Linked DNA regions of Homo sapiens: all the other regions are reported to be linked to region 1. The links are microRNA targets in miRTarBase. Many come from high-throughput screens and were not tested one by one. Region 1 holds a microRNA gene; each other region holds the end of a gene's coding sequence.
The links. The annotated mature microRNA hsa-miR-4789-5p reads GUAUACACCUGAUAUGUGUAUG and lies in region 1 at 3,214-3,235, opposite strand. An mRNA with a match to its seed (bases 2 to 7 or 8) in the 3' UTR can be bound and repressed. Matches are read on the target gene's strand: a 7mer-m8 pairs with bases 2 to 8, a 7mer-A1 pairs with bases 2 to 7 and ends in A, and an 8mer does both.

Region 1 (5,509 bases):
AGGTTAGTGTGGCAGAAACTGCTGGATACTACCCCAATTTTTCCTTACTTCTTCATTAATAGAATTACAATTCTATTGAGTATGGCAACGTGCCCAGGTATAAAATGTATTTCATCAAATCCCATTTTAGTTAAGGCCAATGAGGCATATGTTGGTCAGGACTTTAAGAACAGACCCTTTAAAAGATCAGTTAGCCTTAGTGGGCATGTGCCTTTCTTCTTTCTCCAAGTGGAATATTACAATGATGACTATAGCTTCAGCCTTTATCAGCAACCATGAGGAAAAGACAGAGAGCTTGGGTCTAATATCTTCAAGACACTGAATTAACACCAACGCTTCATTCGATTTCTCATTTTGTGAGAAAAATATTTAGAGAAGTATTTGGAGAAGTCCACTGTTAATGAGTTTTCTGTTACATGAAGGAAAACACGAAACTCTAACTGATACTAGGTAGATATAGAGAATGCACAGACATGCATGTTTTCGCTCCAGAAGGCAGAGCGTGAGCAAGCTAAATATAGCTAGGTATTAGGTCAGTATGATGAAAAATGTAATGATGGAGCTTTACAAAAACTGAATGGGCTAGCTAAAAACATAGCGACTCCTGTACTAGCAGTTCAGTAAAGTCTGCAGGGCAACACGCCAGCTACACTAAATGAGGTCTGCCTAGGAAGCAGTGGAAAAAAAATTTTGTGAACTCCTAAGGGTTATTCCTTTAAACTCTAAGATGCTATGGCTGGACTTTTTTTAGAGTAATTATATTTGTCTATTTCATGTTATGGTAGGAATTTGCCCTAAGGAAGTAGAACTAGTTTAGCTCAGAATGGCAATATTTCTTCTAAAACTTATTAGGAAACTAGAAGGAACGCTTTGTGGATGTAGTTTTCCTAAAGGTCATGCAGAACTTCCAGGTATTACAGATTTTGAAAGATGAATAATAGCCATTTTAGTGGTTATCTTTTTTTTTTTTTAATAGATGGAGTTGTCCAGGCTGGAGGGCAGTGGCATGATCTTGGCTTACTGCAACCTCCGCCTCCTGGGTTCAAGTGATTCTCCTGCTTCAGCCTCCTGAGTAGCTGGGATTACAGGCCCCTGCACCACACCCAGCTAATTTTTGTATTTTTAGTAGAGACGGGATTTCGCCATCTTGGCCAGGCTACTCTTGATCTCCTGACCTCAGGTGATCCACCCGCCTTGGCCTCCCAAAGAGCTGGGATTACAAGCATGAGCCGTCGTGCCCAGCTCATATCATTCTCAAAGGACTTTTGTAGCACACAGAATGGTTTCTAAATAATATTATCCATATCTTGACTAACACGGTGAAACCCCATCTCTACTAAAAATCCAAAAAATTAGCCGGGCGCGGTGGCGGGCGCCTGTAATCCCAGCTACTCAGGAGGCTGAGGCAGGAGAACGGCGAGAACCCGGGGGGCGGAGCTTGCAGTGAGCCGAGATAGCGCCACTGCAGTCCGGCCTGGGCGAAAGAGCGAGTACTCCGTCTCAAAAAATAATAATAATAATAATATCATCCATAATATTAGTTGATAGTCTCTTCATAATTCTAAATCCAGCATTTTTCAAAGCATTACCAATGAAGGAGAACTTTTAAGATGAAGCTAAATATAAAAAAAAAGTGAATTACTGCAAATTACTATACATAGTATAATTTGAAATTTTGGTAATATTGTCTAAGACAAATCATCCTTTTGGGATAGTTTTTTTCCATACTGTTCAAACTACCCTTCATCCTATAACGGCAGACATGGCCTAATGATTCTCATTTTTAATCAACAGTGTTGTCAGACATTTCAATGATTCTGAACATAATGTTATGACATTCAGGGCCAGAGAGCAAGCATTCTCTACTTGCTCTCAGCTGAAAGCAAAGAGGTTCTCAAGAGCTGCCAGCCTTTCTCCTTTATGCTCTGAAAGCCTCCTAAACTTGTCAGTTTACTTCCATTACCCTTTTATTGAAAACAATGAAAGAAAAAAAGTTACTACGGTGTTTATACTTTTAAAGTGAATGTCTTTTGTAATAAGGTAGAAATATCACAGAACCATCGAATGTTGGAATCAGAAGCATGTTTGGCATATCATCAAGTACAATAGCCACATCCTGCCTATGTGGAAAGCTGGAGGGGCTAAAGGACCTCTCAAAGCTACACATGTAGAGTCAGCAGCAGAGCAGAGCTTAAAGCAGCAAGTGACTCTTACGGCCATCAGTAATCACACTCTTGCTTAACATGCAAATGAATAAAGCTATTTTTATAAAATCCCTCCCCCCCCCATATATTGGCAGTAACTCTAAATTCTAGTCATTTTTTAACCATTACAGAATAAGATTAGAAGCATCAGTAGTTAATGGTGATAATAATTTCCATTTTATATGGGGTTTTATGGTTCACAAATATATTTTATAAAATAAGTTTCTAACATTTCATTTTCTTATATTGAGGGCTTTTAAAAGAAATAACCAAAACCTATTTTATTAAAATTTGATATTTAAAATTATAGTTGAGAATAGTGGAAGATTTTTCCCATTATCTTTGCTCTCCTGGATAGCAACCAGATAAATGACTTCCCAGAGAAATGCATAGAGTCATATAAGATAAAACGTCTTTTTTTCTCCATTTTACTCAGAGTTTGATGATGAACTATGACTGGATATTGAAATAATCATTCTTTTATCCTTTGTAGTAAGGCTTACTTTGTCCAGTGGCAACATGATCAGACAAGCAGCTCTCAGATGACATGTGACAATATTAAATTCAATCTTAGCAAGCAGCTTCTCAATTTCACACTTGTGGTAGCTGGATTAACCCAATTATTTTTTGGAGGTTAAGGGAAACTTTCACATTTGCAGAATACCATCCTTCAGAAACCGGAATGTAGGATTTTGTTATCTCAAAGAATTTTATGGAGATGGAAAGATCAGTTAGTATTAAATTTTAGCACACAATCAGATGAAGGGTTTAGGAAGAAGTAGATATGATTACCTAATAATTCACTTTGAGTTCTTCACTTTGAGCCTCAAAAATGTGTGAAACTTGGGACTTTTACTAAGCATATCTTTCAGGCAAAATATTTTCATTGTACCAGTTCCAAGCTCTTGGTTCTAACACAAAACCCCTGCTACACATACACACACATGCACTCACACACACACAGGCTACCTATATATACACCTGCTATGTGTGTGGATATGTATTTACACATACACATATCAGGTGTATACATACGTAGCATGTATATATACACATACACACACACGCACACAGGCACACACATACTTGTTACCTATATATGTATACATGCACATATCAGGTGTATGTAAATGTAACATGTATATGTACACACACGCACACAGGCACACACATACTTGTTACCTATATATGTATACATGCACATATCAGGTGTATGTAAATGTAACATGTATATGTACACACACGCACACAGGCACACACATACTTGTTACATATATAATTACACATGCACATATCAGGTGTATGTAAATGTAACATTTATATATACACACGCGCACACAGGCACACACATACTTGCTACATATATATACAGTCAGGTGCTGCATGATGACATTTTGCTCAAGAACAAATCACATACATGAGGGTGGTTCCATAGATTATAGTGGAGCTGAAAAACTCTAGTGGCATTGTTCTCATTGTGACATTAGTGCAATTACTTAATTTTTAAAACAAATTTAGTGTAACCTAAGTGTACAGTGTTTATAAAGCCTACAGTAATGCATAGTAACGTCTTAGGCCTTCACATTTGCTCACTGCTCATTCACAGATCCACCCAGAGCAACTTCTACTCCCACAAGTTCCATGAAAAGTGCCCTATACAGGGGTGGCAATTTTTTTTAATCTTTTATATCATATTTCGCTGTACCTTTTCTGTGTTTAGATATGTTTAGATATACAAATACCACTGCATTGTAATTGCCTACAGTGTTCAGTACAATAACATGCTATGCAGGTTTGTAGCTTAGAAGTAATAAGCTATACGACATAACCTAGTTGTTTAGGAGGCTACACAATGTGTTTGTGTTATGTGCACTCTATGATGTTCTCTCAACAATGAAGTCACCTAATGATGCATTTCTCAGAAAGCATCTCCATTATTAAATGGCACATGAACGTATTTGCTACATATATACATACTGGCTATAAACACACACACACACACACACACACTCACACACACCTGCTACAGTCCTTTCAAAGTATAAAAAAAGATACCAAAATGTGTTAGAGATTCGTTTGTAAAATGTAACTATTTTCGGACCAGATGGATTCACAGCCGAATTCTACCAGAGGTACAAGGAGGAACTGGTACCATTCCTTCTGAAACTATTCCAATCAATAGAAAAAGAGGGAAACCTCCCTAACTCATTTTATGAGGCCAGCATCATCCTGATACCAAAGCCAGGCAGAGACACAACCAAAAAAGAGAATTTTAGACCAATATCCTTGATGAACATTGATGCAAAAATCCTCAATAAAATACTGGCAACCCGAATCCAGCAGCACATCAAAAAGCTTATCCACCATGATCAAGTGGGCTTCATCCCTGGGATGCAAGGCTGGTTCAATATACGCAAATCAATAAATGTAATCCAGCGTATAAACAGAACCAAAGACAAAAACCACATGATTATCTCAATAGATGCAGAAAAGGCCTTTGACAAAATTCAACAACGCTTCATGCTAAAAACTCTCAATAAATTAGGTATTGATGGGATGTATCTCAAAATAATAAGAGCTATCTATGACAAACCCACAGCCAATATCATAATGAATGGGCAAAAACTGGAAGCATTCCCTTTGAAAACTGGCACAAGACAGGGATGCCCTCTCTCACCTCTCCTATTCAACATAGTGTTGGAAGTTCTGGCCAGGGCAATCAGGCAGGAGAAGGAAATAAAGGGTATTCAGTTAGGAAAAGAGGAAGTCAAACTGTCCCTGTTTGCAGACAACATGATTGTACATCTAGAAAACCCCATTGTCTCAGCCCAAAATCTCCTTAAGCTGATAAGCAACTTCAGCAAAGTTTCAGGATACAAAATCCATGTACAAAAATCACAAGCATTCTTATACACCAATAACAGACAGAGAGCCAAATCATGAGTGAACTCCCATTCACAATTGCTTCAAAGAGAATAAAATACTTAGGAATCCAACTTACAAGGGACGTGGAGGACCTCTTCAAGGAGAACTACAAACCACTGCTCAAGGAAATAAAAGAGGACACAAACAAATGGAAGAACATTCCATGCTCATGGGTAGGAAGAATCAGTATCGTGAAAATGGCCGTATTGCCCCAGGTAATTTATAGATTCAATGCCATCCCCATCAAGCTACCAATGACTTTCTTCACAGAATCGGAAACAACTCTTTAAAGTTCATATGGAAGCAAAAAAGAGCCCGCATCGCCAAGTCAATCCTAAGCCAAAAGAACAAAGCTGGAGGCATCATGCTACCTGACTTCA
Region 2 (5,509 bases), not on the chromosome of region 1:
CTTTTTCTCAGAGCCATGTGCCACGTACTTCTCTTTTTCTTAATGAGCATGTGTAACATAAGGAAATCTAGTAAATGTCTCGGCAGAAGTTTCTTGACGCCCAATGTCAAATGATGTTTTTGCGAGCGTGCTTATGTACATTAAATTTCTGGTTTTGCCACGTGGCACATTTTTCTTACCTGATTTCTTCTGGAATAAGGAAAGAATAAACAGAGACAGAGCAGACCAGACATGATTCTGTCTTTTCAGTCTGAAAATCCTCTAATTCTCTAATCATAGATTGTACGTAGGGGTTTTCTTTTAACCAGAAAATGTGACAACAGTTTAATAATGAGTATAGTTCCTTTTTTATAAAGATTCATTTTTAACTCAACAGAGGCAAAATAAAAAATAACTTTTTGTGAATATTAGTAACGACAGTGAACTAAAAGCTTAAACTTGAAATTTAGTGTAAGCATACCGTGCTAAAGGCTAGGCATATGCCCACAACCCTGTTTTACAGAGTAGTAGAAAGTTTCGTGTCTTAACCAAGGCCGTATAACTTATCAGTGATAAATAGACATCCAAAACAAAACCAATCCGATTCAGCCTTTGGGACCTTCCCGATTTCCCTGGGGCATTTGTAGGAAGCATAAGTAAATCTTTGATCCCAGTTACCCAGGAGGCTGAGGTGGGAGGATCGCCTGAGCCCAAGAGGTCAAGGCTGAAATGAGTGGTGGTCGTGCCACTGCACTCCAGCCTGGGTAACAGAGTGAGACCCTGTCTCAAAAAAATTTTATTTAATTTTTGAAATCGATTCACTTTTTAAAACCCATTTTATACTCCCAATCACCAATTTAAGCAAATAAACTGACAGGTGTGCAGGTGTGGATGCCTTCCTTCTTTGCAAACGTCCTGGCTATACTGCTCCCTGCTCTGTAGACGTTGTCTCCTGCACACAGTCCCAGCTGCTAAATCTGCAAATGAAACCAGGATTCTAATGATTTGTTTTCTGTTTTCCTTAGAACGAGACCAAAAGTTCAATACAATGGCTATGCTGGGCATGAAAACAGCAATGGACAAGCATCGTTTGAAAACCCCATGTATGATACAAACTTAAAACCCACAGAAGCCAAGGCTGTGAGGTTTGACACAACTCTGAACACAGTCTGTACAGTGGTATAGCCCTCAGTGCCCCAACAGGACTGATTCATAGCCATACCTCTGATGGACAAGCAGTGATTCCTTTGGTGCCATATACCACTCTCCCTTCCACTCTGGCTTTACTGCAGCGATCTTCAACCTTGTCTACTGGCATAAGTGCAGCGGGGATCTCTACTCAAATGTGTCAGGGTCTTCTACGGATCAAACTACACATGCGTTTTCATTCCAAAAGTGGGTTCTAAATGCCTGGCTGCATCTGTATGAAATCAAGGCACACTCCAGGAAGACTGCCACGTCGCGCCAACACGTCATACTCAATGCCTCAGACTTTCATATTTCTGTGTTGCTGAGATGCCTTTCAATGCAATCGTCTGGGCTCGTGGATATGTCCCTCAGGTGCGGTGACAGAATGGTGGCACCACGATATGTGTTCTCTTGTGTTGTTTTTCCTTTTTAAACCCCCATGAACACGAATACTCTGAAAAAAATAAAAAGCTTTCTGGAAGAAGACACCTTTCTGATAGAGGCTCACACCTACAAATGCTTCACTCTGTCCTTCCGAGACCTGACAAGCTTTGAGGACCTCACAGCTCCCCTGTGTGTTCATCTCTAGGGATGTTTGCAATTTCCCAGTCAGCTGTTCTGTCGCAGAATGTTTAATGCACAATTTTTTGCACTAGTGTGTTATGAATGACTAAGATTCTGATAAAAAAAATAAATTATTTACACAGGGTTTATACACACTATCCATTGTATATAAGCATTATTTCATATTATCAAGCTAAACATTCCCCCATCAGCTTAGTTGGAGTGTTAGGGAAAAGTATTCCTAGATATGGCACAGATTTTAAAAGGAAATACAGTATTGAAGAGATTTATTTTATTATTGCTTCAATTAGCTCCATTTACGTGTTGAATTCATTGAAGAGGTCCAATGAGAAAAAAACAGAAGCCTCCTTATTTCACACGTTTTCCTCCTTTAGTACCATCCTCATCCAATTACTGTCTCTCTGATACTACTTAATAGCAGGGGGTTTGCAGAAATTTCTGTTTGCCATGTAAAACTGTGAATAGTAATTTATTTTAGATAGTCGATGAACTTGTGGGTTTTAGCTCACAATGCAGCCTTCCCTTTTGCAGTGTTTTTTTTTTGTTTTTTTTTTTTTTTGTCTTTTACTGTGCCATCGATCTTTGATATTGCATTGAAAGACAATATACCACAGTAGCACCTTGAACTCAGTGAAAATTGTTCAGGATCAAAATACCAAGTGTTCTTTTAGAGGGAAGGAAAAAGTACACACACTCTCCTCTCACAATGATATATTTTATACATTCATTTGTTATTTGTTTCATGCTTTATGATTCCAGATGGAAAGGTAATTTCAGTGACTTTTCAAGTTTAAATTCCATTATAGGTAAATGATAAGTTATGATGCAAATAAAATCTATAAGATCCCCAGGGCAAATAAAAATCAAAACATGAAGTAGAAGATGTGGCCGTGAGGTAGTTTATGTAACAAATTCAAAGTGAAAATCATGTTTACTTTTACTTATACTTATTTGATAAAAATATTTTTGAAACGATAGTACTTATTTTATTATTTGATATTTCAGTTCCTATTCAATTGTGGCAGATTTTCTCTGTTTCACATTTTAGATTGGCGTTGGTAATAGAAATGTCAGAATGTTCAAATTGGCCTTCACGTTGTCGGAGTGAACACATTGACACCTAGCTTTAAGACTGATTTATCTGTTGGTGTACTGAAGGTTTCCATGTAGGACTTCAAATGTGGAAAAGGAAAAGCAGTCAGGAAAATGGGGCATTCTTTGGAGAGTCACGCGTTTTGATTCGGACATTTCCGTAGAGCTCGGCTCCCAGTGTTGTGTTCCTCGGTCGAAAGGGTCTCTGCTGTTTGGGGACTCACTGGCCTCTCCTAGGGACTCCTTTGTCTTGTGAACCCCACGCTGTTGGATTCTGTATCATTATGCTGAATTCTCTGCACAGTTTTCCCTGGCCAACCTGCCCACATCCTTGGAGATTTGCTTTGCCAGTGGGAATCCTTACATTGCTGTTTCACAGTAGACGGGACGAGGTCAGCGGGAGTCGTGCTCCTAACACACACATTGAACGAAACAGAAGATGATTGAAAGTGTGAGGAGGCTCGTGTGCAAGGGAGAACAGGGTTACTATACATATTAGTGTATATATATACATACATATATATATATATATATTGTACATATCTAAGTTTGAGTCATTCAAACTAGGTGCAAAATGCTGACTTCAGAGTCTGAATTAACATCTCTGTTCCCATATCCCTGACCTGCTCCCTGGTCAACGATGCTATGAAATCCTGAAATGACAGGACATACATACATACAAGAAACCACATATCAAATTAGATATGATTTTCCTTTGTGTGCAAAGTCAAACTGTCCTAGGGTTGCCAGTTTGAAGCATGTTATTTAAATGAAAAAAAAAATCAGTGAAATTCTCGTGTGAGAATTCTGCCTAGTTTCTTCCTAAGGTTGTGTGCAGTGTTGAACGGCGTCTCCGCAAGGTGTTGGAGGATCTCATTTTAGGGCAGTCAGGAGCTGTGCTTGCTGAGTTAGGTCTAGAAGACTCTTCCCTGAAGGCAACGGGAACACGCGTGAGGGACGCGACCACACACTAACAGAGGACACGTGCTTCAGAGCTGTTTAAAACTGCTGCTTGTTTTACACACACATCTTGCCTTTTTTCAGGCTAGCTGCAATAATTTTTTTCTTCTGTAAAATATTTTGTAAACAACAACAAAAAGCTATTATAAAAAGGGGGTAAAAAAAAGAACGCTGGCATTATGATCAGGAAAACCCATTGTCATCGCCGACCCTCCCTCCCGTCCCACCACACGCTGCTGTCACGACGTAGGTGCGAAAGACCTTTTTGTACAGAGATATATTTTTTATGAAGAATTTGTAAAATTATTAAATATGCTGTAATTTTTTGATTAATGTAGGTACATTGTTAAAAAATAAATGTTTTTACAATACAGAACTGTAATTTTCCCAATAATGTAAAATGTACCATCTCTAGCTGATTTTCAGTTCCAATCCTATTACACATGTATTAATATTAAAGTGGCCTGTTAAAATGAACAGTATCTTTTTTTTGTCAAAAAAATTATAAAGAGGGTGTAATATAGCCTGTGCAATGCCACCAATCTTTAAAGCAAATCAGAGTTCTAATTAAATATTTAATTTTAGATTTCTATTTTTCTGTGTGAATTTATTTTCACTTTAATATGCGCACCTGAGTCCCTTGCAGGGGAGGGAAGGAATGGGAGTCTTCATAATGAGCCTTTAGGATATTCAAAATGAAGCTCCATATTTTTCCCACGACATTCACATCATCGTCATGATTAATCAATAGCACATTTAGCAGGAACCATGAGACACAGAATAGTAACGTTGAAGCTGACAGATTTCTTGATGGTTCACATTAAAAACGGTAAGAAAACTTGGTTTCCTCCAAACCAAAACCTATGTTTTTTTATGATTTCTTTTCAATTTGGGAGCTCTGTTTGTAAACGTTCACCACACTAAAAAAATGACATGAAAGAGAATTATAGACCTACTTAACAGAGCACTCCAAATAACACATTTAAAGAAGGCTCAAAAAAATCAAACCGCTTTTTAAACTCAGAACCAGCGGTCCCCCGTTCATTTCTGGGCTGACAGAAAACACAATGCTTTACACGTCCTTGGTGGCCCATCACGCCGAATGTCTTGCAGTTCAACAGAATGATACACTACTTTCTCTGAGAGTCAAGTTATTACAAAATGAAAAACAACCAATAATATTTCCAAAATAGCCCACGGTGGCTTCGCAGCGACCAAGTTTTGATGTCCAACTTGCAATCTGAGTCTTGCTGGCCAGCAACTGCATTTAGGTGCCATTTATTGAGGAAATACCGAGCGCGAGACACTGCACTTTGTGACTCGCAGACGTTGCAAAACCCCCATAATCCAACCGAGAGGGTTTTGCCACTTTGATAATTTAGATGAAGAAGCAGGAAGTTAAATAAGTTGGTTGGTTTACCCAACGACACACAGATAGGCAGAGCTGATATTACAGGTCAGGTTTCTCTTGCTTCAACTTTCTCATTTTTCAAGAAACCGTCACATTATGAAATGCATCCAATATTCCCTTTCTTATCCAATTTTTTTTCTGAATTTTTCTGTCATTCTACCTGTGAATCTTCTTTTGCTTCATTGAGTAAATAATTACCAAAGCTAAGAATTCAAAGGGAAATAAGTACTCTCTATTACTAATTTTCACATTCCACAGAATGCTCATACATAATACACCCTTGTGAGTTATTAA
Region 3 (5,509 bases), not on the chromosome of region 1:
CTCCATCAGTCTGGGATCGTTACACAGGGCGGATATTCACAATTTTCACAAGTGATCCTGAAAGAAGGCCTAGGGGAAGCCTCCTAAACGGTCCCACATTGCAGCAGGGCTGGTGAGGCCTGGGATCCATTCTCTCTCTTTTCTGCCCTTCCCATCCCGGAGTCTCGGGGCCGGCGGCGGGAATTCCGCGCAGCCGGAGGGGGGTCTGCGCCCAGCGGAGCGCCGTGCTGGGGCGAGGTGGCTGTGGGCAGAGCGTGCACCGGGGTTGGGGGGAGAAGGGGATTGAAGGGGCGGGGGGCGCGGGAGTACCTGGGCGGCAGGCAGTTGGCCCTGGAGCTCAGTGCCCGCGTTCTGCCTGAGTTGGGAGAGCCCTGCCAGAGGGTGGAGCGGAGAGGGCCGTGCACCCCTCACTCTTCAGCTTCCCTCCCCCTGCTTCCCAGCGCTTGTCATATCCTGTCTCTGGCCTGATATTTCACGCGAGCAATTGGAAGGAGATTACAATGGAGATTTATGTGTGTTCTGAGCACTGCTAGTTTCCCAGCGTAGAGAGCCGAGATCGCTGCTTCCCATTTCCATTTTTCATTCGCGCTTTGGGGAGCTCAGTAGAGCACGGGGGGAGCGTGTCTGCGCGGCGGCGGGCTGATCACAGGACTCCGCGTCTCCGGGCGGGCCGGGAGACTGTGAGAAAGGCTTGCCAGCGCGTCGCCCCCGGCGGGGCTGGAGCCGGCCCCCGCCTCCAGGAGCCAGGCTTTGTTTCCTCCCTTGCCTACCCCTCCCCCTTTCCGCCCCCTCATTTCTGGGACCTGGGCGCGTCCTTGCAACCCCTTCTCTTTGCCCTTCTCGTGGTCTGCGGAAACACCCCCTTCCTCTGGCCCCTTCACCCTCCTGCTCTCGGCTTCGCAGGCTCCCTGGGGAAAGGCACACCGTGGCCCGGCCCGACCCTGTCGTCACTGGGTGCCGGGTAAGGTGACTCCGGCGAGTCTGTGGGGCCTCAGCCCACCCCGGAGCTGGGAGCTCCCGCCCTCCCGACTCCCAGGCTTGGCTCATGCCAAGGCCTGTTGCGTGATTCCAACTTGGGCTGACATTCCCTGCCCCGGGCTCTCCAGCGTAGGCCTCTTAATCATCTTGTCTGCTGCAGATCCTCGACACCAGCCAATTTACTGCCCGTCTCTCCCCGCTGGTTTCGGGAGGAGGGAGGGGAGTGCGTGCAAAGGAGGGGAGGGCACAGTCACCCTCAGGAGGAAGGCTGGCACCAGTTAGTGGCACTAAAAAGAAAAAAAAAACAAAAAAAAAAGAAACAAAACCCACAGAATTTGGAGCTGGGGTGCGGGTGGTGGACAGGGATGGGGGTCTGCCAGGCAGCGGTTGCTTAGGGAAACCCAGGATCATAGGTCAATGGGCTTCAACCCAGGCCTCCCTAGCCTGGGAAAACAATGCAAAAATGCAATGGGACACTGGATCGTGTAGCCCCCCTGCTTTTTCCAAAGCCGCAACTCTCTGGACCGCATGGTTGTAAACCAGACTCAGAGAAGGCCCCAAAGCAATCTGCTCAGAAAAGTCATGATTCTCCTCAGGATGATGCCACTGAGCCCAGAAAGTCACCTCCGCCCCGTGTCTGGTTTTGGCAGATAAGTTGAAGACACACAGCACAGATGGCCTCATCCTAGAGGAGACGAAGCCTGGACCTGGCAGGCGGGGCTCTGTGGCTGGCACCCAGCCCCTCTGCAGTAGGGGAGAATCCCTTCAGAGGGCATGGCTGAGGTTCAAACCCCAGGTAGGAAGGGGCTTTCCCAGCCCCAGGATGTTGCTCTTCCACACAAAGTGAAGTTGGAAAGCCTCTGGGTAACTGTGGGTTTCATACCCCTCTCTGGGGGTAGTGAAAAAACAGTAATACTAAATATTAAATAGATATAATTTAGTGAGTTGTTACCATGTGCCAGGCACTGTTACACTGTTGCCTCATTAAATGCTCACAACTGCAAGCTATAGCTGTTAATATTTCTCCTATCTTACAGATCTGCAAACTGTAACACAGGGTGGTTAAATGGGTTCCCCAAGGTCACACAGTCAGTGATTGAAGCCAGGAAGCTTCCAACTGCGGGCCCTAGCACTTTCAGGGAAAGGCCCTAGCACTTTCAGGGACCTTCATTAACCACCAACCCCTGGCCTTTGTAGGGAATGCCAGAAAGCAGGGTCACCTCCAAAGTTGTAAGCTGGTTGTGTGGGGCCCAAGGTAGAAAGCAGAGCCCAGTGGTGTGTGGACATCCCCCCCACCAAGAGTATGAAGTGGAAAGATGCCACTCTCATACCAGTGTATATAAGTCTGTGAGTAAGTATACATGAGTGTGCATATGTGAGTTTGTCTATCAGTGTGTAAGGGTATGAATGCGAGTGTGCATGACTTCGTGTGTCAGTGTTGTAAGAGTGTGATGGAGTATGAGTGTGTGATGTGACGGTGTTCGAGTGTGTGTCATTGTGTGTGCGCCTGAGAATATTTGAGCATGAGTGTGACTGTGAGAGTGTGTATCAGTATGGGTGAGTGTGTGCTAGTATAGATGGGCCTGTGACAGTGTGCTCAGTGTGTGATTGTGTGTTTGCGCGCGCTCGAGCACGGCCCCGTGTCGTTGGGGTCGGCTTGCATTCCAGAGCAGCCAGCCATGCCTCCCGAGGGTGACTCACAGAGCTCTCAGTTCAGTCCCGAAGGGCGGTGGGACAAACGGAGGGGAAGGTTCAAAGTAGGGTTCCGACCCTCAGGCTGCTGCAGAGCTCAGGTCCCTGACAGGAGGTCCCCCGCGGCGGCTGGGGTGCCGAGCCTGGCCATCTAGGCGGGCGCGGGGGCGGTGGCGCCGGCGCCGGAGGGGCAGGGCAGGCGGAGGCTGGAGCCGCTCCGCGCTGAGTGAGTCACCCCGCCGCCGGCCGGAGAATCCCTCGCGGGGACTCGGGAGGGGGCGGGGCGTGAAACCCCCGGTGCGGCCCCACGCCCAGCGCGCCTGTCCTCTCCTTGCCGCACCTCGCGGTGTCGCAGCCTCGGAAAGATGTAAACGTAGCTCTCGGCCGGCTGGCTTCCCGGCCTGGGCAGCGGCTTGAGCTCTGAGCACGTGACTGACCGGACCCTGGCACCAAGAAAAAAGCGCACACATCCAATGAAAACAATAATTTATTTAAATAATCTCTTCATATTGTAAAATCAACATTAAGAGCATGTTGTTTTCATAATAAATAACCCCAAAATACCTTTCATTTCAACAACAAAGACTTTAGGATACGATAAAACAAATCCAAATCAGTAGCTTAATTTAACTGAAATGTTTTTAAAGGAAAAAATAAAAAGGAGGGGTTGCTGAGGTCACTGCTAAACTGCAGTTTTCACAACTGGGGGTTTACAAAAAAGTCTGAAAAGATGAGTATTTTTATACAAATAAATCAGTGGGAAAATCTGCACAGACACCTTTATTTACAAACTCTGTGTCCAAGTCCAGGCTAATAATCCTGAATAGGTTTTAAAAAAGATAATTTAAACACATTTTTGCAGTGTTCACATATTAAAAAATCATTTTTTCAACGTCAAAATGAGGTCATCCGCAAAGGCACCTAAACTTTTAAAAAAATAACAAATAAAAAAACTCCACTGGTGATGGATGAGGAGAGAGCTGAGGGAGCGCTCCTGGGGGAGCGCGGTGGGGGTAAGATAAGGGATGGGGGCTCCGAGGGCTGGGAACTGCAGGAAGGAAAGAAGCGGCGGGGCCGCCCGGGTCAAGGGGCCACGTGGGGGAGGGCGGGCAGGCGGGACCGGGAGGTCAATAACTGCAGCGTCCGAGCTGAGCCCAGGGGAGCGGGCGAGGAGAAAGAAGCCTCAGAGCGCCCGGGAAGCCTCGCGCGCCTGGGAGGCTTCCATCTCCCGGGACCCAGCTCTCAGCCCGGGGCGAGGAAGGCGCCAGACAGGCTCACCCGGAGGGGAGGGAAGGCAAGTCCGAGGCGGGGCTCGAAACAGCCGAGACCCGGGGCTCAGGTCAGAAATGCGGCCTTTTAGGGAGGCCTTTGCCAAGCTGCTGTCCGGTTCCCCCGAGAGAGGGGCCCGTTTGGTGGCCCCGGGAGTGAGCAGGGCCTGAGACGGGCCACTGCAGGTCGCAGCCTGCAGGAGAGGTGGGTGGCGGCAGCGGGCCGGGAGGAGGGAACCCCGGCTCGGGGTAAGCAATGAGGATAAGTGGTCTCTGCTCTCAGTCTCTGGCGAGTTCTCCCTGGGGTTAGAAAATCGTCCCCGCGCTCACCGGGGCGCCCCCGCCGCCGTGATGGTGGTGGTGGTGATGCGGCTGCGGGGTCTGAGTGGGGTGCAGCAGCGGCGCCGTGGCCTGCAGGTGTGAGGCGGATCCCGAGGTCTGGTGGTACCAGGGGTAGTTGCCCAGAAAAGCCGAGGCCGCGCTGCTCGGGCTGGAGCCCGAGCTGCCGGCGCCGCTGCCGCCACTGCCCGGACCACCGCCGCCCGCCATCCGCTGCGGCACACCAAAGTCCCAGGAGGCCGGCGCTGAGACTGGCGGCGAAGCACAAGGTGGAGAAGCGCTGGCCCCAGGGTGCTGCTCCGAGGGGATCTCACCACTTTTCCACATCTTCTTGAACTTGGACCGGCGGTTCTGGAACCAGATTTTGACCTTTGAGGAAAAAGACCTGAGCATTAGTGGAGGAACCTAGTCTTGGGGCAGTAGGGGTTCGAAGAGGAGAAAAAAGAAGGCAGAGAAAAACCGCTGGCTAGCGGTGGGCAGCGAGCGCCCTGGGGAGATAAGAGGATCACGGGCGGCGGCCTTCGAGGCTCTGCCGGTTCCTGCTCCCTGGGGAGGTAATTGCCAAAAGGCCAGGACTGCTGGTGTACGTGCACTGTGATGATGGTGACAGCGGGAGGGTGAGGAGGGCCAGTTATTTCACCCGCTTAATCAGTAGCGAGAGGTACGGGATTTCTGTCCACCCGGTCCCTTTCCTTCCCTCCCACGGCGGCCCCTTGGGGGTTTCCAGCTTTGGGCCTAGAAGCTTACTTAGGGCCGCTCGAGGCGCAGGCCTGGAAATCCTTAAAAGTACTTAAAATGAACTTTAAAAAGCATTGTCCTAAACCCGCCTGCTTCCCAGCCATCTCAGGCCCGCGCTCTCCTCGCCCCTGCAGGGCGCGAGCCCCACCTGAGTCTGGGTGAGGCCCAGAGAGGCCGCCAGCTCGGCTCGCTCCGGCAAGGCCAAGTATTGAGTCTTTTGGAAACGCCGCTGAAGAGCCGCCAGCTGGAAACTGGAGTAGATGGTGCGGGGTTTCCGGACTTTCTTTGGCTTCCCGTTCACTATCCGAATTTCAGGCTCAAGGTCCTCCTTCTCTGCAACGATAAAGAATCGTAAGAACAGCGCAACCCAGGGGTCCTGGAGTTCCCGCCCTCCTAGAGGGCCCGGCGGGGGGGACTTGGCTTGAGCAAAGAGGTGGGTGCACTGAACTGTGGCGCCACGGGCAGGCGCAACTTCGCAGCGTGCGATCGGAGCC
Region 4 (5,509 bases), not on the chromosome of region 1:
TTTACCTGTGTCCACATAAGAAATTTTAAAAAATAATTTGGTTTACACAATTCAGGAAAATATTTTCCAGTTAACAGACATCTATTGTGTAGCTATTATTAAGCTAAATGCTATTTCTTGTCCTTCTAGAAATTTAAAAAAAAGAATAAATGCAGTTATGAAAGGGTATTTATGTGCTGGTTATAGTGGAGGTGGTTCTGTTAGATTATGACTTTCCATAATTCTTTAACCAGGCAACTATTGACGAGTTTCACTTTATTCAGCCACAAGAATGAGTAAGGCCAAACTACCTATTATATAACAGAAGCAAAGTAAGAAGTCAAAACACTGCATGTGTTAGATTTTGTTGAATGATTAAATATTTGTGTTTTTAAAAACAAAAGATAACATCAGTGAAATTTGTTCAGTAGTTTAAAAGGAAAATTTTCTTTTTAAAAATCAAAATAATGCTGATTCATGTATGATGTATTCACTGTATTTGCTTATAAACAGTAGTGAAATTGATTTTGATTAAGACGCAATGCACACACACATCATGTCTTGTGTACTATGTAATTAATAAAGCCCCTATAATTTAAGGTTTTTATTGTAAAAAACAAAAGATAGAATTTAATTTAAAAGACCAGAGTATTAGCTATTGTTCCAAAACTACTGCTGTTGTGATCGAGTATTAAAAATTGCATGCTAAAGCTGCAATCTTTTTAAATATATAAAGATAAAATGCATGACTGTGTGTGTCCCAAGTGACTTTTAATCAAAGTTTAGTTGTGCCCTTTATGAAACCACGAATTGAGTCATGTCATGCTAACTTTACGGAAAAGTAATTTGCTTTTATATTAGGGAATTCAATATATATGCCCATGCGTAACTCATTCAGAAATTCAAATTTGAAGTCCAGTGCTATTTGAATTTAAACATAAGTAACAGATATTTTTGTTTGTTTCCTGCAGCCCATTTGGAAGCCCTTTCCTAATCAAGACAGTGACTCGGTGGTACTAAGTGGCACAGACTCAGAACTGCATATACCTCGAGTATGTGAATTCTGTCAAGCAGTTTTCCCACCATCCATTACATCCAGGGGGGATTTCCTTCGGCATCTTAATTCACACTTCAATGGAGAGACTTAAGACACATTTGAAAACAGACATATCAAGTTCTATGTGATGATTTTGGGTTTTTAATACTATAAATACTTGATTGTAAACTAAATTCAAGATCATTTATAGGAAAATCTAGTTTCACAGCTATTTGAATTTTTTTCTGGATTTACTATATAACTCTTATTTTTTAAAAGATCATTCTGTTCTTTCAAGGAGAAATAAGCCTAAAAGAAGAAAAACAAAAAAAATTCTGTATAAAACTGTAATCCTTTGTATTCATGTTTACAGTGCTATTACTATAATTCAAAATTATGTATGTGACTTAGAGTTATATAATCATAATTTATGTTTATTTCAAATATCTAAGTTTATTGCTTGGATTTCTAGTGAGAGCTGTTGAATTTGGTGATGTCAAATGTTTCTAGGGTTTTTTTAGTTTGTTTTTATTGAAAAATTTAATTATTTATGCTATAGGTGATATTCTCTTTGAATAAACCTATAATAGAAAATAGCAGACAACATAAACATCTTTGTAAATATCAAACCTAATACATTTCTTGTCCAGTGATAAAACAACTGGTAGAATTATTTAAACACTTTAGATTTTTAAATAATATACATGGCTTTAATTTTTACTGTGTGTATAGCTACATGATGAAATTAATTAAATATTAAGAGGTACTTATGTTGTGATCATTTGTATGTCCTTTGTTCCTGAGTAAAAAAAAAAAAAAAAAAAGGGAAGGAAGGAATCACATTTTTAGGGAAGTTTATAAAATTCATGTTTTCATTTCAGTAACCTAATAGAATGGTGATGACCAGATTTGGTGGCATTTATTACAATTAGTGAATCACTTTGAATTTTAGAATTATTCTTCAAACTAAACTTTCTAAAGAAACATTTGTTTTTAACGGGAGAAAATCTAAAACCCTGCAAGGACTATCTATATTTGTTAACTTAGATTAGAAATGTTCATATTCTTGTTGAGAAATTTGTTATTCATTGTTAGCAGCCTGATTGATGGCCACTGAAGACATTTGAGAGAGTGGATACCAAATTCAGACGGCTGCAAAATTTGTTTAAAATGAGACTTCCCTTTCATTTTTATTCCCTATGATTCTCGCCTTATAGGTTTCTGTTTTCCCCTGATTCTTAAAAGTGTTTAAGGCATGGCTTCCATTTTATGAAGTAAGCATTGATTTGCAACTCTCAGAAATTTAAGCCTTCTTGAAGCAAGTGCTTTAAACTAGAGGGTGTGGGATGGGGGAATTTGAGCAGGCCTCTGTGCCACAGTGAAGAACCTTAACTTGTGGAAGAATGAGAGTGGTGCCTCGACTTCTCCTGGTGCCAAGCACATCATATTGACATGTTCCTCACCAGGGTGACAGTAATTATTAGGTATTCACTGCGAAGGGTTCTGAGGTATGTACATCTTTCTTTCATTGCCACTAGGGCTGAATGGAAATGCCTAGACAATTATCCAAGTTTCTTCCCTTCCCCCCACTTCCCGCCCACCCAGCCTCCCTTCTCCGCGCGCGCGCACACACACACACACACACACACACACACACACACACACACACAAAATTAAAAATAAAAACTTCCCAGCGTGTACCAGCCAGAATATACCACTGTACCTATCTGGTGAAAGGGGATTCTTTTTTTCCCCTGTCCTTTTCTAGATGGGAAGACTTTCTCTCAACACAGTTGACATCTACTAGCTTGCTGACAACCAGAGGAAACTCCGTGTCCCAGAAGGTGACTCAAATTAAAGTGTACCATTGACCTTCCTCCCCAGCCCATCCTTTCCCCGCCCCCACCACTTTTAGCAGGACTAGCAAACTCGGTTTTCTTCTGGATTCCAGCGGCACCCTAAGCTCCACGTGGTGAGGGACATAGACCCTTTGGGGCCACAGGAAAGGCAGCCTGGAGAGCAGCCCCCTGCCCTGCTCTACAGAGGGAGCGCGGGTCACCGCTCTAAAGGTGGAGTGGGCACCCGCCAGGTCTCTCCCTCTGTCTCATGACTGAGTCGTGCAGGGTCTGGCTTTTGGCATCTGCTAAGCGTGGCCGGGTAAGAACAGCTCCCAGGTAAAAAAGCTGCACACGCGAAACGCCGAGTCTGAAAAAACCACCCCCGCCGAGGCGAGGCAGTTGTGAGCGGGATGCCTGAGAAGTGGGAGGTGAATGTCCTCGGGAGGGCCCCCCCGGTGCAGCTTTCCCCGGAGGCTGAGGCTGCTGCCAGCGGGGACATCTGCTTTCTTACACTCCAGCCTGGCTCACCCCGCCCCCTCAGCCCCGGGTTGCGTGGTTATTTTACCAACACGGGGGGAGGGAGAGCTCGAGGAGGTAGAAAAGGGGTGGATAGAAGCTTAGAAGATTTTCTTCCCACTCCCCCCACGTCCCCTCCTTTCGTCACATCTTTTAACCTTCAAGGTAAAGACTTAAGGAAACAATAAGCGTGTCCGCTGGCTCGCAGGCCCGCCGGGGTTCTCGGGCGCGGGGCCTTGCCCCTCTCCATCCTCCCTGAGTCCTTCCCCGAGTCGGGCCGTGCTTCGGCGGTTCGGCTGGGCGCAGGGGCCGGCCGGGCGCGCCCAGCCTGTGGCGCCTCCTCTCCCGGGCTGCTGCCTCGACAGCTGCTTGTAGCTACAGTAATTAGACTGTCAGTGCTTGTTAGAGGAGAGAGGGGAAAACACGCTTCTGACAGCAGATTCCAAGACTCCCCAGTTTGTTAATTTCTAAGAGATCTTTAAAGCATTAATTGAGGTCTCCCCAACTCTCCCCTCCCGTCCCTCTCTGCAACTCCTCCCTTCCCAAAAATATCTTTAGGAGAAGCGAGTTCTCTCGGCGTGGAAGCAGTGTTTCCCGCAAAACTGCCAGCCCGCCCCCCGCTCACGCACAGACACCCAATTTCCCATATACAGATAAATGCACACATGTATACGCGAAAGGTTAACTCGGCGGAGGACTCGCCCAAATAAGCACCGGGATTGCATTTAAAATAATAATAATAAATAAATAAATAAACTAGGAAGGAAAGCGGGGGGAGGGAAGCAGAAGTCGGGAAGAAAAGAGAAAAGCAGCAGGCTGATTACGAGGTGTCAAAACTGCCAGGAGCAAGAAGGTGATAGCAATCAGGGGTGAGAAGAGTGCGGCATTCGTGCGGGGCAACTAATTATCCGTCTCATTTGAGAAGAGCAGCATTTGAGGCAGCAGCGTTCGCCTGCTGAACGGTGACAGATTGGCGCGGAGGAGAGGGGAGGTGTTAAAACAATGGAGCCGGGCGCGCGAGCGCTGCTGCATGCTAATCAGCCCTCCCTCCGCCTGCCTGCCGCGCTCCCTCCTTCCTCCCGGCCTCCCTCCTCCGCGCTCCCTCCTCCCGCCTGCGGCGCTCCCTCCTTTCCAGCGGGCCCCGCGCCGCCGCCGCCACCCGCTTCCTGCTCCCTCGCTTTCCCGCGCGTCCTTCCCGCCGCTGGCGAGTGGAACCCAGCCACCGCCACCGAGTCCCTAGCGGGCCAGGAGCCCCCGCGCGGCCCCCAGCGCCGGCCCGGTGGAGTGCAGCCCCGCGCGGGCTCGCCCGAGGGCTCGGCCTGCGCCGCGCGCCCACTCCCCGGGGCGGTGGGGCGAGGACCCGCGCTCCGGGATCCACGTACTGGGGAAGCGGCCGAAGAGCCTGCGTTCTCACGCCCACTCGCTGTCTGGTGAATCGACCGCGTCGGCCAGCGAGCGCGACTGGGAGTCCAGGCGAATTCAGAAAGGGCTAGGGCCAGCCAGGGGTGAAAAGAGTGACAGGGCCACAAAGGCCAAGAAGGGCTCCAGGACTGAGCGCAGATCTCCTGCCCTGCCCGAGCGTGGCCGCCACCCCGAGGCCTCCAGCCGCCCCCAACCCGCCCTGCAGTGGCCGCGCCCCGCTGGCCTGCGGCGAGTCGGCGAGGTCAGCGCCCCCCGCCACGCCTCGCGCGCTGCGGCTCTTAGACCCCTGGAGCCCCTTTTTTGCCAGAGCTACCGGTCCACGGTTTAAATGATCGCAGCGAAGATACATAAAGGGCCTTAGCATTAGCTGTGCTTCCAAGGCCTGACCTCCTGACCCCAAGACTAGATTAAGGGGCCGTCTGGGCCTCGAGAGTTCCCTCGAAAGACCGTCGCGGGGAGAGAAGGGCCTGGAAAGAAGCGGGCCGCGCTCCCCCCTGCCGCGAAGACTGTGGGGCAGATGGGGGCAGGACCTGATCTGGAGGCCCAGCTCCCCGCCTGGCCGCTCTGTTCTATACTCTGGCCCGAGACAAGCTAGTCAAAAACAGCAGCGCCCTGGCCGCCCCTCCGACAAAGAGCCCATCGGAACCCGAGTCTGCTGAAAAAAGCCTTTCATACCTGTTGATGCAGGCGGGGACCTGAGATTTCATACAACCTCCTG

Region 2: miRTarBase lists CSMD1 as a target of hsa-miR-4789-5p. Seed matches in the 3' UTR shown: 7mer-m8 at 3,343-3,349.
Region 3: miRTarBase lists DLX2 as a target of hsa-miR-4789-5p. Seed matches in the 3' UTR shown: 7mer-A1 at 3,411-3,417.
Region 4: the mRNA of TANK is a reported target of hsa-miR-4789-5p. Seed matches in the 3' UTR shown: 7mer-A1 at 1,352-1,358 and 7mer-m8 at 1,740-1,746.

Annotation. Positions count from the first base shown.
Region 1 is chr3:175,367,278-175,372,786 of GRCh38, reverse strand. MIR4789 (microRNA 4789) reads right to left here and starts at 3,247; the gene lies at 3,166-3,247. All of the region lies in intron 5 of NAALADL2 (N-acetylated alpha-linked acidic dipeptidase like 2), which reads right to left.
Region 2 is chr8:2,934,240-2,939,748 of GRCh38, reverse strand. CSMD1 (CUB and Sushi multiple domains 1) reads left to right here. Exons shown (of 70, transcript NM_033225.6): 70 at 1,005-4,388. The coding sequence ends at 1,164. The region is part of intron 6 of LOC105377785 (a long non-coding RNA gene); the gene reads right to left. Among named protein-coding and RNA genes, the nearest start is that of LINC03021, 210 kb to the right of the region's middle.
Region 3 is chr2:172,096,299-172,101,807 of GRCh38, forward strand. It overlaps DLX2 (distal-less homeobox 2), which reads right to left. Exons shown (of 3, transcript NM_004405.4): 2 at 5,164-5,348; 3 at 3,140-4,646. The coding sequence ends at 4,245. Among named protein-coding and RNA genes, the nearest start is that of DLX2, 3.8 kb to the right of the region's middle. RefSeq lists a silencer at 2,815-3,044.
Region 4 is chr2:161,234,392-161,239,900 of GRCh38, forward strand. It overlaps TANK (TRAF family member associated NFKB activator), which reads left to right. Exons shown (of 8, transcript NM_001199135.3): 8 at 951-1,839. The coding sequence ends at 1,127. All of the region lies in intron 3 of PSMD14-DT (PSMD14 divergent transcript), which reads right to left. Among named protein-coding and RNA genes, the nearest start is that of LINC01806, 7.6 kb to the right of the region's middle. RefSeq lists an enhancer at 3,993-4,549 and silencers at 4,381-4,750, 4,841-4,910.